Regions from separate parts of the Homo sapiens genome. Here regions 2 and 3 are each linked to region 1. Evidence: fine-mapped expression QTL. A gene starts in region 1. Each other region holds a variant in brackets. All regions are shown on one strand. Distances are from middle to middle.

What was found. PIP is the estimated chance that this variant, and not a neighbour inherited with it, causes the effect. A credible set is the group of variants that fine-mapping cannot tell apart.
Region 2: its variant is the best candidate, but not a certain one, in a credible set for the expression of EPHB2 in monocytes (Schmiedel 2018, PIP 0.82).
Region 3: its variant is the best candidate, but not a certain one, in a credible set for the expression of EPHB2 in monocytes after interferon gamma (Fairfax 2014, PIP 0.83).

What each region holds. Positions count from the first base shown.
Region 1 is chr1:22,708,623-22,713,955 of GRCh38, forward strand. EPHB2 (EPH receptor B2) reads left to right here and starts at 2,217. Exons shown (of 16, transcript NM_017449.5): 1 at 2,217-2,421. The coding sequence starts at 2,361. RefSeq lists a silencer at 904-1,189 and an enhancer at 3,411-3,510.
Region 2 is chr1:22,733,120-22,738,119 of GRCh38, forward strand. All of the region lies in intron 1 of EPHB2 (EPH receptor B2), which reads left to right. Among named protein-coding and RNA genes, the nearest start is that of MIR4684, 16 kb to the left of the region's middle. RefSeq lists an enhancer at 3,610-4,171. The variant A/C (reference allele first, on the strand shown) is at 2,346.
Region 3 is chr1:21,755,460-21,760,792 of GRCh38, forward strand. USP48 (ubiquitin specific peptidase 48) reads right to left here. Exons shown (of 27, transcript NM_032236.8): 2 at 2,204-2,324; 3 at 1,087-1,243. Among named protein-coding and RNA genes, the nearest start is that of USP48, 25 kb to the right of the region's middle. The variant C/T (reference allele first, on the strand shown) is at 3,100.

The DNA of each region.
Region 1 (5,333 bases):
TAGGCCTCAGTTTCCTTATCTGTGAAATAGCCTGTGGGAAGAGCCCTGAGCTCTGTGCTTCTGTGAAAGGTACAAGGAGGTCAGCACTGGGGTCGGACGGACATGGGGTTGAATCCTAGCCCAATTTGCCATGTGACTTTGGACAAATTACTTATCTGGTCCTCAGTTTCATCATGTGAAAAGATCAGCACCTGGTGCACAGAGTAGGAAAGATTAAGGGGGACAAGAAATAAACAAAGCCCAGCCTAGTGCCTGGTACCATGTCCTCAATAAAGCAGAGTCACTGGTCTTCCTATTTTGAGACAAAAAGGAAGTAACCACTGGCCCTGGGTAGGTGGAGTCAAGGGTCCCAGGAAATAGAAACAAAGCAAAAAAGCTGAATCTGCACAGTACATAATAGGTGCTCAATAATGACTTCTTGAATTTGGAAGTGTCTAGCACCTGGATGCACTGGAGGGGGCCAGAGCTTAGAGCTGCTCTGTCCAGGAGAGGGAGGATTGCCTCAAGATGGGCCAAGCTTGGGGTCCCTCAAACCCTGGGTCTCCTGGAAGGTCTGACAGGCAAGAACTGAAAATAAAGGCTAGCCCCACCCCAGTGGATCTTGACCCTGGTGAGGGGTCTGTAGACTTAAAAGGGGGAATCTTCGTTTCTCCTCTCTCCCTGCTCACTCAAATAGGAACGGTAGTGGCTCTGCCAGCCCCACCCCACTGGCTCTTGACCCTGGTGAGGGGTCTGTAGGCTTAATAGGGGGAAATCTCCTGTTTCTCTTCTCTCCCTGCTCACTCCTGTTCTGTCTCCCTCCCAGGCTGCCTCCTCCTGGTGGCCTTCCAGGATGACACCCATTTCAACTGGACTCTTGGAGCTTCAAGAGACGACCCAACTTTCCAAACCTTAGATGGATTCCCAAAGCCTGTGGTACCCCATTTTCTTGGTATGGACTGAAGGGGAGGGATTGCTGGGACATTTTGATAGTATGTGGGACAAAGGGACACAGGAGATGTGGGTAGCATAGACTTAAACTGCCTTCGACTTAAACCACCTGCTCCTGCACTGGGCTCCTCCACTCACTCCACAGAGTTCCGAGCTCCTGATGAAGTCTCCTCAGTCAGGAGTGGGCTCCCAACTGCCAGGGGTTCAGCCTGGGTGATTGCCGCAGGCCCCCTGCAGCCGCCCACCATCCAGACTTCAGTAAAGTCTGTTAATGATGATGGTGATGAAGGCTGTCAGAGCAGGGCAGGGCCCACAGGGTTGGGGCTAGGGTTGTGTTCTCCCTGAAGGGACGGCCATGCACAAAACCACGGCTGCACAGACAGGTCCATTCCACAGCGTGGGGGTGGCTGGGGCTTTCCCCAGATTCACCCATGGACTTCCTTCACCCCATCCCCAAACTGCACTGGGAGCAAGATCAACAGAGAAGGAGAAATCTAATACAGACATAGACGAGTCTGCAGTGAGGGGCTCGCGGGCCAGCTCAGAACAACGGGGCAGGGAGGGGAGGCCTGGGGTCTGCCTGCAAGGGCCCAGCCCACCAGTGCCGAGTGACCACCCTCCCCCCAGCCCCACCCCAGGCCCTCGGGTAGCGCCAAGGCCCAGTCTCCCACTCGGAGGCCCCGGCCCAGCCCCGGTGCCTGGGAAAGCCGCCTGTTTTGTTCCCAGATGCCACCCCCCCACACACACCCTTTTTTTTTTTTTTCCATTCATTGCAGTTCGGTCCCTTTCGAAGCCGCAGGGACCCGGGTGGCAGGGCTGAGGCGAGGGGGTGGGACTCCCTGCCCTGACAGGTAGTGCCGGCCCCCGCTTTGGGAAGCCCCTTCCCCCGCCCTCCCCTCCGTCCGCTCTCCCTGCCCCTGTCAGCCGCGCCAGACGCTCTCCGGCTTTGCAGCATTCAATAAAAATTGAGAAACATTTGGGCTGAAATCGCTGCTTTATCTGGAGGAGCCACAGCGCCGGGAGAGACCACTGCTGCGCGGGGGGAGCCCGGGGTCTCAGTGGCCCGGGCACGCGGGGTCGCCGCGCTCCAGCGCCCGCGCTGCCCCCGGGTGACCCTACGGGCGCGGTGTGGGGACCCGGGCTCGCGGCGGCGCGCGGCCGCCGGGGGCCGGGACGCGCGCGGGGGGCGGTGGCCTGGCGAGGCTCCCCCCGCGCCCGCGGCTCAGGTGGGCCGTGCCCAGCGCTGGCGGAGCCCGGGTCCCCGTTCTGCCCGGGCTGGATGGCTCATTCTGCTGGCTGCGCGGTGGCGGCGGCTGTGTGTGCGCCGCGCCTTGCCGCCCCCCCTGGCCCCCCGAGCCCGGGGCGCGCGCTCCCGCCCGGGCCGTCCGGGCCCCGCGGCGCCGCGGCCCGAGGCCCCGGGAAGCGCAGCCATGGCTCTGCGGAGGCTGGGGGCCGCGCTGCTGCTGCTGCCGCTGCTCGCCGCCGTGGAAGGTGAGCGAGCGGGCGGGCGGGCGGGCGATGGGGGCGGGGAGCGGCCGGGCACGGGCGGCCGCCGGCGCCCACCTCCGCTCCGCGGCCCGCAAAGTTTGCCCGGGGGCCGGCGCCGGGCGCAGGTGGCCGCGGGGAGGTGTGTCCGGCCGCGCCGGGAGGAGCGGGCCCCGCGGGCGCCCGGGGAGCGGCGGGCGCTGATTGACTGTGCCAGGAGGAGGCGAAGGGACCATCTTGCCGAGGCTTTGTAGCCAGCCCGGCGAGCGCCGCCCAGGGCTGGGGGCTGCCCACGCGCGCTCGCCGCCCCCGGCTCGGGCAGCCGCCTCGCGCCGGCCTGGTCTTGCTCCGCACAGGGTGGAGGGGCGCGGGCCCGGCCGTGGCGGGGGGCGGGGGGGGCGCCGGCGCTCGGTCGGGGCTGGAAAGTTTGGCAGGGAGCAGAGGGAGGGAGGCACCGCGGCCGGCCGGGGTGGGGGCTCCCGGCCCGCGCCCCCGAGATGGGGCCCGGCGCCCCGGAGAGCAGGGACTGGCAGAGTGGAAGGGAGCGCGCCAGCCCCCGCGTCGGTGCCTGCCCATCGCCCGCGGCGTACAATGGGGTCCCCTCCCCGAGAGGACTGCGCGGGGGATGGGTCTGTGGGCATCTCTCCGCCGCGCAAGGTCTCCGGGCACCCCCGCCGGCCACCGCCCCGCGGCCGCGGCGCTCAGCGTGGCGGCTGGAGCCCCGGGAACTCTCCAGCTGCCGCCGGGGCCGGACCAGATGCTCTTGCCATGTGTTGGCCTTGGCCAGGGTCGCGGGCCCTCTCCCCGTGGCCTCGTGTATTGGTACCACTCGACCCCCAGGGGGGCAAGGGTAGTTGCTAGGTCTCCCGAGCCAGCTTGCTCTGGAGGGAAAGTTAGTGCGGTCTGGGTGTGTCCACCAGGAATGGCCGAGCTTGCAGGGCAAGAAGCGAACGTGAATAATGGTTCTCACGTGTACTGCACTTTACAGTTTTCAAACCACTTTACAGTTTATGAAGTACTTCGCACTATACGCAGCTCTCTGTGGTTTACAACGTGCTGCACAGTTGACAAGGTACTTTAAGCTTTACAAAGTGCTTTCCCGCCCACCAGCGTGTTGGATCCCTCAAAATACACCTTCCGGGGAAGACAGGTAGGTATGATTCCTACTTCTCTTGAACAGATAGGGAAACCGAGGTTCTGAAAAGTCCGATGTCTCACCCAGGGCCGTTGGGTGACAAAAATAGAACCCAGGTCTGTGGTCTTTCTTTGAAACCAGCACTCACTTAGCTGGGTTTTGTTGCCCCTAAACTGCGTGAGCCCTTCCAGGGTTCTGCTCCCTTGGGCTTAGGGATGATGTCTGTGTGCACCTCTCAGGCCACTTTAGGGTTGTGGGGCGCCCCTTCCCTTCTTGCAGCCTAAGAAAAAACGCATATCAGACCAGACGTGGGGGCTGCGGCCTCTGGGAAAGGCGTCGTGGGGGACCCTGTGCTACAACTTCAGTTTCTCTTTCGGTAATGAGCACTTTAGTGACCGCAGTCAGGGGGTGGGGGGTGTCCCTGGATGGCAGCCACAGTTTCTGGCACTGAGGCAGCTGTCCTTCGGCTCCTGGGGGATTTGGCGGCTGACTGCGGTTTCCCGGAGTGGGGCCACTGGGGCACCTAGGGTGCCACGGGCCCTGGGTGTGGAGGGCAGCCCTGGGGCCTGGCTGCTGGCGGGAGCTCTGTGGAATATGGCTGAGGTACCACTTATTAACTCTGGCTTTGGGGAAATGACTCATGCGTTGGCCCGCTATACATTGGGATGTTTACAGTATTATGGGGAGCTTGGCATAAATATTGCTATTTAGGTTGCAGTCAGCGGTGCTGGAGGGGAAGAAAATTGGCCCCTCTCTCGTTGGAAGAGGCCTGGGTGTGTTTTTAATTACTCTGGGGTAGATGGAAGGGCCACATCTGTCCAGCCATCGCCCTGGCAGAGGCTGGTTGGAATCTGGTGGGCTGTGGCCAGCCTGGACCCTGGCCCTGGACACAGGGCTGGTGGGCGCTGACGTCACAGGAGGGTATGGCTACTTGGACTGCCACTTGGGGGCAGGGTGGGGAAGGGAAGCCACAGCAGGGTGGGAGGAGGGCTGCAGCAGGCACCCCAATGCTTGCCTCAGGCTCTTGTTCCGTTTGCCCCCTGGACACTAGGAAGTTAGTCCATCAGTGGTTAATAAGGAGCTGGCCGAATGGATGGGGAGATGGTGTGAGGTGGAGGTCAGAGGGCCTGCTTCTCATTTACTATGGGACCCTGGGCCAGGTCCCTTCCCTGTGGGGGCCTCAGTTTCTCTGGGTGTAAAATGGCCTGGCTAAATATCTTGTAGAGTCCATCGTCTACGCCCTACTTCCCCTCTTTGAGCCTCGTTTTCCTCCCCCGTCTAGTGAGAGTGATGACAGCGCCTGTCCTGCCTGTCTCCTGGGGTGTTTGTGAGGATCAGACCAGATGATGGGTGGGAGAAGTCCCCCTTCAAAGCCAGGGATGGACGGTGCTGCCTGTGCACATTTGGGGGGCGGTGCTGCCTGTGCACATTTGGGAGACACCAGGGTCCTCCTGAGGGTGACACAGTCTGTGGAGACAGGACTGGGCCGTGGAGCAGTAGGAGGGTGGCCCCTCTGGCTCCCAGAACCCAGAGCCACATGGCTACCACTTCCTTCCCTTCCTCCTTCCTTGTCTCCTCAGCCCGTAAAGGGCTGTCCTGCCGGTTAAGTCCCCAGGAAATCCCCAGCTCCAGCCTTCGGAATGGGGGAGAGGAGAGTGTGTGTGTATACGGGGGGTTTCTAGGTTAGGACGGTAAGCTTAGCATCTCCCCCAAACTGTGAGACCGCCCCCCGACCAAGTGAAAGAAAGCATGGAGCATGTGAAGTGGCGGCGAGCAGGATGGA
Region 2 (5,000 bases), 24 kb after region 1:
CTCACTGCAACCTCTGCCTCCCCAGTTCAAGCGATTCTCCTGCCTCAGCCTCCTGAGTAGCTGGGATTACAGGTGCCTGCCACCACGCCTGGCTGATTTTTGTATTTTTAGTAGAGACGGGGTTTCACCGTGTTGGCCAGGCTGGTCTCAAACTTCTGACCTCAGGTGATTTGCCCACCTCAGCCTTCCAAAGTGCTGGGATTGCAGGCGTGAACCACTGTGGCTGGCCCAGGCTGCCTTTCTAACCAGCCTCTTTATTTTCAGATGGGGAAACCAAGACCCAAAGAGGATAAGGACCTGTGCAAAGTCACACAGTGATGAGTGATGATATGAATGATGAAAATATTAGCGTTATACAATTTTAACATTCATGTTAACAGTCATTTTAAAGGATTGATTTTACGGAGTAGTTTTGCACGGTGGAAATCAGCATATACCATGGCCTTATTATGTGCCATGTTGCCATGCTGAATCCACCACTGTGAGGCAGGATTATTATTATTTTTGTTTTAGAGGAAAACTGAATCTCTGAGAGGTTCAGTAAATTGCCCAAGGCCACATAGCCAGTAAGGGGCGGAAATGGGATTTGAACCCGCGATTCTCTAAGTCCAAAGCCCATGCTCATGACACGCTACTACATCAGGCTGGTATGATTTGGTGGGGACAGAGCTAGAAGTTGAACCCGGGACTGGATTCTTGGCCTGGTATGATTTGGTGGGGACAGAGCTAGAAGTTGAACCCGGGACTGGATTCTTGACCTGGTATGATTTGGTGGGGACGGAGCTAGAAGTTGAACCTGGGACTGGATTCTTGGCCTGGTGTGATTTGGTGGGGACAGAGCTAGAAGTTGAACCTGGGACTGGATTCTTGGCCTCCTGATCCCCAAAAACAAAACCCCAGCCCAGAGGCCGCAGGAGTGGCCCTGTCAGGAGCTTCTCAGTCAAGGACAGAGCTCTGCCCTGGGCCTCCCACCCAGGGCCAGCCTGGGCTTGGGCAGGGGGCTCATGTCTCTATCAGGCCTCACTGTGAGGGGGCTTTGGAGCAGCTGCCTCTGTGGCCCAGCCTGCATGCAGGCAGCTGGTCCTGGCTGCCTCTTTAGCAGGAGCAGGATAAATCTTACCCCCCGGCACAGCCCATGCACAGCCCAGTGTGGTTCACAGCATCCTTTCCCCTCCACAGTCTCACCTGAGCTTCACAACATCCTTGTGAGACAGTTAGGGTAGGGCTCCCCAGTCTTCATGCAGAGAAACCAAAGCCCAGAGATATATACACTCAATAAAGTACCACCAGAATGTCAATATTCTTTTTTTTTTTTTTTTTGAGACTGAGTTTCGCTCTATTGCCCAAGCTGAAGTGCAGTGGCGCAATCTCTGCTCACTGCAACCTCTGCCTCCTGGGTTCAAGCGATTCTTGTGCCTCAGCCTCCCGAATAGCTGGGATTACAGGTGTGCACCACTGCGCCCGACTAATTTTTGTATTTTTAGTAGAGATGGGGTTTCACCATGTTGGCCAGGCTGGTCTCTAACTCCTGACCTCAGGCATCTGCCTGCCTCAGCCTCCCAAAGCACTGGGATTTACAGGCATGAGCTACCACTCCCGGCCTGAATGTCAGTATTATTTTGCTGTGGTTCTTAATTTCTTTGGGGTCCTGAAGATCCTTGAGAAGCTGCCACAGGCTATGAACTGCCCCCTCCTAGAAAGTTGGAGACACACAGATACTTTTATGAAAAAATTCAGGGGACTTACAGATTACAAGCCTCTGTTGTGTTGCTCCATGGTACTGATGATAATGAATACAACTTTGTTTTATTGAGCCTCTGCTTTGTGCTGGGCAGGGTGTTTGATGGTTTACATACATTATCTCAGAACACCCCTGCAGGGTAGGAGACTGAGGCTCAAGGGAGGGTGACACTGACTAAGGCTGCACAGCAGGGCTATGAACCTGCTCTACCGACTCCTGTGGCCTGTGGGGCATGGTGTGGGAGCATCTTCCTGAGGCTGCTGTTAAGAACAAGGACCTTTGCTGGGTACGGTGGCTCACTCCTATAATCCCAGCACACTTTGGGAGGGTGAGGCAGGAGGGTGAGGCAGGAGGATTGCTTGAGGCCAGGAGTTCGAGACCAGCTTGGGCAACACAGTGTGACCCCATCTCTACTAAATTTTTTTTTAATTAGTCAGGCATGGTGGCATGTGCCTATAGTCCCAGCTACTTGGGAGGCTGAGGTGGGAGGATCGCTTGAGCCCAGGAGGTCAAGGCTGTAGTGAGTCATGGTCATGCCACTGCACTGCAGCCTAAACAACAGAGTGAGACCCGGTATCAAAAAAAAAAAAAGAAGAAGAAGAAG[A/C]AGCAGAAGTAGAACCAGGGCCTCTAAGGAAGTTTACAGTCCATACTTTCTGCCTTTGGAAAAGACTGCTGGCTTACCCCAGGCCTGAGAGCAGGAACAGCTACTGAGGACAGGGTTTCTAGCAACCTCTGAACTCCCAGCAGGGAGCCTCCTTCTCCCACTTCCCAGGGGTCTGATTTGAGGGCCCTGGGTAGAGCCTGTCTCAGCTCTACATGATGGGAAAGTCTGCAATTCAAGCTTGACTCATTTGGCTTAACTCATGGGAATTTGCCTTCCTTGAAATCCTCTTCCCACCCTGGGACAGCCTAATGATTCCTATAGGGCACTTGGGACGCCCTTGGCAGTGAGTCGGCCCAGAGAGCAGGACTGAGGGAGAGGGCTGGGAGGTCAGTAGGGTCACTAGACTTAGGGCAGAGCCCCTGCCTGTGCACCCCTCAGGACCGGAGCAGCCTAAGGTATCTTGTACAGTGGATAAGAGTGTGGGCTCTGAGGGACCTGGGTTCAAATCCTGGCTTACACCTACACGCTCTGTGACTTTCGATAGGCTCTTTTCCCTCTCTGAGCCTCAGTTCCCCATTAGTAAAATGAGGATGATAAATAGCACTAAGAGACATGTGGCCCTGTCCCTGGCCCAAAGGTAGTGCTCAATAAAGATGATCGTAGTGGTCATCGTTGTTGCTGTCATAAGCAGAGTCGGGGGGCTGTGGAAGAGAGCTCATCGTACACACGGGGGTCTACAGGAGGCTGCTCAGGAGACCTCCCTTTCCTCTTTGGCAAGACTGTACCTGAAAGGGGATTGGGCGAGGAGTGATAAGGCTGGTATGGGGGAACGTTTGGGGACAAGGCGGCCCCTCTTGCCTGGTTGGTGTGGGGAATGAGGCCTGGTGCTGGGCCCAGAGACGTAAAAGCCTCTCCCCTTCAACTTTCCTCCCAAATAATTCTGGAGGCTGGACAAAGAGTTCCATGGGGCCCCCCTTCCCAATGCATGAGCCGAGGCTCTGTTTAGCAGCCCCCACCCCACAGACCCGCCTCAGTCACTGTGTTGGCCAAAGCATGGTTCCCTGGGGGTGGGAAGGAGCCTGGGAGCCTCGGTGGGGCCTGCAGGCCGCGGTCTGGTTCCCAGAGGCCCTGGAGGGGGCCCCTTCACAGCTTCAGCACGAGGCCCTTTGAGGGTGGGGGCAGCCTCCGCAGCGCGGCATGTTTGCGCCGCTGACACTCTGGCAGGGTCACTGTGGATAAAGGCGCTGCCCAGACCCCGGGCCCAGCCTGCAATGGGGCTTTCTTGTCAGAGAGGAGCCTTTTTTTCCCAGCGCACTGTGGGGCGGCCGCAGGGGGTCACCCTGCCTAGGAGGATAATGGAGCTTTGGGCCAATGGAGACACAGGACTCAGCCGGCCCCCTCCCTGTCAGACCTGGGGAGGAGGGGAGACTGGGGGAGACCGATTGGCTCGGATCAGCCGCCACCTTGGCCATGGCTCTCTGGGTGGAGTCAGAAGGGAAGACACAGTGGAGAACCTGGGACTCCCCCAGGCCTCCAGGTGTCTGCGAATCCAGCCATCGGCGTGACGAGGAATCTTGGGCAAGTCATCCAGTGCTTCCGTTTCTAATCTGGCTGCCTTGTGGTTCTCAGGAGAGACCACCAGGGCCAGAGCTAGCACGGCCCTTTTTAGCTGTGCCTCCCTCTCACCCTGGCCATTCAGCTACTGCCTGCCTTTCTGTTCCTACAGCTACCACCTGACCTCAAGTCTACCCCCTGCCCCACCTGGACCATCTCAGTGACTTCTGAACCCCACAAAGCATCACCACTGAGTCTTCTAAACTGCAGCTGAGACCACATTACCCTCCTGCTCAGACCTTGGGCTCCTTATCTAAAAAAATCAAGGTCAAACAGCTGCTCGTTGACCTGGCCCCTGAGGCCTTCTCTGCCTGTCCTTGTCATCCCACAAACTCTAGGTGGATGTCATTCTCATCCATAAACTATAGGTTTCATACATACATGTTATAAACTCCCATGCCCCCAGATCTTTGTTCAGGCCCCAGCTGCTGCCTAGAATGAATGCCCTTCTTGCTTCTGCCTAGTGAACTCCTACTCATCCTTCAAGGCCCAACTCAAATGTCCCCTCCTTGGTATATCCTTCTTTGTACTTACCCTCAGCTCTTGATTAACAATTCTTATAACACCAAGGTATGGCTAATTTTGTCTACATCACCCTCCCCCATTAAACTGGAGTGTAGAGACTTTCTTGTCTTATTCATCGTTGGGCCTCCAGTGCCTAGCACAGAGTCTGTTACCAACAGGCTCTTGGGTTGATGTTTTATGAATGAGAGAATGAATGAATACATTGTCTGCCCATGAAAATAACTTCCCCCTCTATCCTAGAGGCTTTTACAACTCAGCATGACACTCCCACAAGACCTTGGAAGTAGGAGGAAATTATCATGATGCACAGGCTGTTCAGATGCCTCTGAAACTAGGTAGAACCTGGAATGAGACTGGATCTGGGTCTCAGGCCAGAACAAGGCAGCTCTTACATCAACCTAGCCTCGCAGAGGTCTTGGAGTTCATGCTCTACCTTGAGGCAAGACCTGGTCAAACCATTTAAAGATAAAAAAAATACTAACTTATCGCAGAGTTGAGAATTCTCCACTTAGGGGC
Region 3 (5,333 bases), 950 kb before region 1:
GCTCTGGCAGGAGGATTGCTTGAGCCTGGGAGGTTGAGGCTACAGTGAGCTGTGCTCGCACCAGCCTGGGCGAAAAAGTGAGATCTTGTCTCAAAAAACAAACAAACAATAAAAAAAAACCTTTTCTGTTCAAATTATTGTGTAGCTTCTGTCTTCTAATCAGACTCTGAATATTTGTATCCTTACTACCAATTGTGGCTTTCAGCAAGTCAATATACCATCTGTAAAATAAAGATAAAATATTACTCCTTGGGGTGCAAAGGTTTTGCAGGCTGGTAAAAGCTATTCAAGGCCTGGCACCATGGTTCATGCCTGTAATCCAGCACTTTTGGAGACCGAGACAGGAGGACTGCTTAAGGCCAGAAGTTCAAGACCAGCCTGGGCAACAGAGCAAGACACTGTCTCTATAAAAAAAATAAGTTTAGGCCAGGCACAGTGGCTCACACCTGTAATCCCAGCACTCTGGGAAGCCGAGGCGGGTGGATCACCTGAGGTCGGGAGTTCAAGACCAGCCTGACCAACATGGAGAAACCCCGTCTCTACTAAAAATACAAAATTAGCCGGGCGTGGTGGTGCACGCCTGTAATCCCAGCTACTCGGGAGGCTGAGGCAGGAGAATTGCTTGAACCTGAGAGGCGGAGGTTGTGGTGAACCGAGATTGTGCCATTGCACTAGAGCGTGGGCAACAAGTGTGAAACTGTCTTAAAAAAATAATAATAATAATAATAAAATAAGTTTAGGCTAGACACAGTGGCTCACACCTGTAGTCGCAGCACTTTGGAAGGCCGAGGCAGCCACATCACTTGAGGTCAGGAGTTCGAGACTAGCCTGGCCAACATAGTGAAACGCTGTCTCTACTAAAAATACAAAAACTAGCCAGGCGTGGTGGCGGGCGCCTGTAATCCCAGCTTCTCAAGAGGCTGAGGCAGGAGAATCGCTTCAGCCCAGGAGGCAGACGTTGCAGTGAACCGAGATGGCGCCACTTCACTCTGGCTTGGGAAACAGAGGAAGACTCAAAAAAAAAAAAAAAAAAAAGTTTAAAAAAATGTTCAGGAAGAGAGCTCTCCCCCACCCCTTTCCACCCACCTTTTTCTTCTTGGATGCCGTCTCCCAGCATGTAGTCACTACAAGTGCTTGGACATAAGTAGAGTGCCTGCCGAAGCTCCAAGTTGAGAAACCACACTTGAAGAAATGTGTTGACATAACAAGTGGCTCCAAGGTTAGTCAGGCCCACAAATGAGTTCTACAAAAATACAAAATTCATAATTATAAAACCCATTTTCCTTTAAACAACCAATTTCTAAGCATTATTCTTAAATTTTCAGATTAAAAATGTGTAAGACCGTCACAACCAACATGGTATAGCCACCTTAAGTTTCTCTTGGCTGGAGGTGGGGCATAATTTTCATGAAAGCCCCATTTTGGGTTGACCACAGGAGTGAAAAAGACTTCGGACGGCATCACTGCTCATCTCTAGCATATCGTCTTCTCCAGCCACTTAAATCTAAAATTAGAACAGTGGATTCTAGAAAAGATCGGTTTTGAACAAGCGTATATAGGTTTTATGTTTTCTGTATTTCTAAACTGCCAGCATTCAGCAGAATGACAAAGTAAAACTTATGCAGAAAACTTCCTTTATATTCTAGAGATTTTAAAGATTGGCGGTGGTAGAGGGAACTGGCTGCAACTTTTTCCAAAGATAAGGTTGGGAATTCCTGACCTTACAAAGAATTATTATTTTATTAAAATATCTATATATAACAAACTTGGATATTTCGTGAATGCTAAGATTTATGTCTAGAAAATTTAATGTATATTTTTAAAAAGCAAAATTATATATAAAATACAAGCCCTAGAAAGCAAAGTGCTATCATCATGAGTTTGTTCCCTTGAATTACCATCTCCTTTAAAGAGGCGTTAAGATTTCAAAATAAAACATGCAATGTTAAAGCAAACATAGAATCAGCATTCAAACTAAAACTATTATTTAAAGGCTTACTGAATTACGCAGCTGCCTGTTTTAAAGCATATCATTAAGAAGTGTTCCAATTCAAGTGGCTTAGAGTCTTAAGTTCTACTGCTTATCTTAAAGCTGCACAGGTTACCTGAAATCAGTAGAGTTTTCTGATCACAGGCCCAAAACAAAAGCAAAAACAAAAACAAAAAACAGCATATAGCAATCGCTTAAAAAATGATGGTTTACCTTTTTTCTCCTCTCACAGTTGGGATCATCGATGTTATGAAAACTATTTTCATCTATTTCTCCTAACCAAATATGCTCACCAATACCAACCAAGCAATTCGGATTTCCTTTGCAGTTTCGTCTAAGGGGAAAAAAAAAACCTTTAATTTTTAAAAGACCATAGTTTCATGAGAGACAAACAAATTAAAACTAAAATGAGATACCACTTCTCATCTATAAATTAGCAAAACTGAGAAAGTATAAGACACTCAGTTTGTGAGGGTGTGGAGAAGAAAGCATGCATATACTGCTGGTAGAAATGCAGTCACTAACAAAACTACATAGACAACTACCTTTAGACCTAGCAATCTCATTTCTGAGGATTTACTGTTCCTTAGGCTATACCTCCAACAATGCAAAATCTCACTCATAAGGTTATTCATTACAGCACTGTCTGTTAATTGCAAAATATTGGAAGCCACCCAAATGCCCAAAAATAGACAATATGGTACATCTATATGGCAGAGTACTATGCAACTGTAAAACACACACACACACACACACACACACACACACACACACAGCATGAAAAAGATATCTATGAACAGATATAAGGTAATTTATAAATCCAGGACACATTATTAAGTAAAAAAAGCAAAATGCAAAGGAGTATCTCTAGTATACTGTTATGTGTAAGAAATATATAAGGAAAATATACATGTACATATTTCTGCTCATTTTGTACAAAAAGAAATACAGAAAGGAAAAACAAGAGACTAATGAAATTGGTTACCTACAGAGCATGAGTGGGAATAAGGTTAAAAGAAAATACACCTTTTCGGCCGGACACAGTGGCTCACACCTGCAATCCCAGCACTTTGGGAGGCTGAGGCAGGCGGATAACAAGGTCAGGAGTT[C/T]GAGACCAGCCTGAAACCCTGTCTCTACTAAAAATACAAAAATTAGCCGGGCGTGGCGGTGCGGGCCTGTAATCCCAGCTACTTGGGAGGTTGTGGCAGAAGAATCCCTTGAACCCAGGACACGGAGGTTGCAGGGAGCCGAGATTACACCACTGCACTCTGGCCTGGGCGACAGAGCAAGACTCTGTCTTGGAAAAAATGAATGAATGAATGAATGAATGAATGAATGAATGAAAAGGAAATGTACCTTTTCATATAATGAACAATTTGGGACCATGTGACTGTTTCTCACACTACTTCACGCATGCACACAAACAAAAATAAATCAACTGGCTAGGCGTGGTGGTTCACGCCTGTAATCCTAGCCCTTTGGGAGGCCAAGGCAGGAGGATCACTTGAGGTTAGGAGTTTTGAGACCAGCCTGGCCAACATGGTGAAACCCTGTCTCTACTAGAAATACAAAAATTAGCCAGGTGTGGTGGTACACGTTTGTAACTCCAGCTACAGGCTGAAGACTGGAGGCTGATGCAGGAGAATTGCTTGAACCCAGGAGGCGGAGGTTGCAGTGAGCCAAGATCGTGCCACTGCACTCCAGCCTGGGCAACAGAGAGAGACACGGTCTCAAAAAAAAAAAAAAAAAAAAAAAAGGAATCAACAAGGATGACAGGAACCCTAAATTCAAAACAGAGAAAACATATTTCAACTAAATAAAAGATCCAGACTGAAGGGAAGGCAGGAGTGGGGGAGGGAGAGGGAGGGGGTGTGACTGACCAAAGTAACTTAAACAGTTATCAAGCTCATTTACTAGTACCCTCTGGCTAAAGACAAAAGGAACAAACAGCCAACTCTAATTAGTAGGCTTCTTTTCCATAGAGACATGGGTTAATAATTCTGAAACACAGATCCTGACTTCTAAATATTACCCACTAAAAGAATCCCGTGCTCCTTGGAGAAATAACTGGCTGATTCCAAGGCCAGGGCAGTGAAATTAGAAAACGAACCTACATCTTACTGTGCCCTAAAATGATGTACTGAAAGATGGTGGAGACATGTCAAAAGAGCACAAGAGTTGGCTGGAAGGGGAGGTCCCACTGGTCAAATTTGGCAACAAAATTTAGCAACAAAATGAGTAATAGGATTATAACCTACTGAATAAAGTAAGAATCCATCATTTCATGGTGAGATGGATGGAAGAAAAATCTCTTCCCTTTAGAAGAAAACCAACTATCAAAGTGGAAGGAATGACAGAATTAAAAATCTCCATTTGGCATACATCAGATTCAGAAAGGAATGAGGCAAGGATCATCACGGATGCTAACGTAGGCAAGTTGGAGAAATAACAATATTTACAATGTCTCAAAGTATCTCAGAAAAAGTTAATTACAAAGGGAAAGATAATAACTTTCAGTGGAGAAACTTGACAGACACCACCTTAACCAAATGCTTAAATTTAACACACCCAGTAATGAATCTAATTGACACCACACACCTTCTGGTATAATGCACAACACAGAATCACTTCTGTGATGTTCTGGCCAAAGATGCATGGCCTTAATTGAATCATGAGGAAACATCAGACCAAACCAACTCAAGGGACTTTATACAAAATAAGTCAGTGTCATGAAATACAAAGAAAGATTCACTAACAGTTCCAGATTAAAGGAAACCAAAGAGACACAACTGAATGTAACATAAGCTTAGGTTTTCTTTTGCTATAAAGGAACATTACAGGACAAAGTTCTGCAGATTTCTGTAGGATACCCACTAAAGGATTACTGATAACAGTAAAAGACTGGAAATTTATATGGAAGTAACAAAATAAATTACAATATAACCAAACAACAAAAACTACTGCTGTCAAAAAATAAAAAGGTAGGCCGGGCACAGTGGCTCACGCCTGTAATCCCAGCATTTTGGGAGGCCCAGGTGGGCGGATCACAAAGTCAGGAGTTCGAGACCAGCCTGGCCAACATGGTAAAACCCCATCTCTACTAAAAATACAAAAATTCGCCAGGAGTGGTGGCGGGAGCCTGTAATCCCAGCTACCCAGGAGGCTGAGGCAGGAGAAATCACTTGAAACTGGAAGGCGGGAGGGTGCAGTGAGCCGAGATCGTGCCACTGCACTCCAGCCTGGGCAACAAGAACAAAACTCTATCTCAAAAAAAATAAAAATAAAAATAAATTTAAAAAAAGGTAGGGAAAGCTTTTAATGTTGTGATATATAACGATATCAT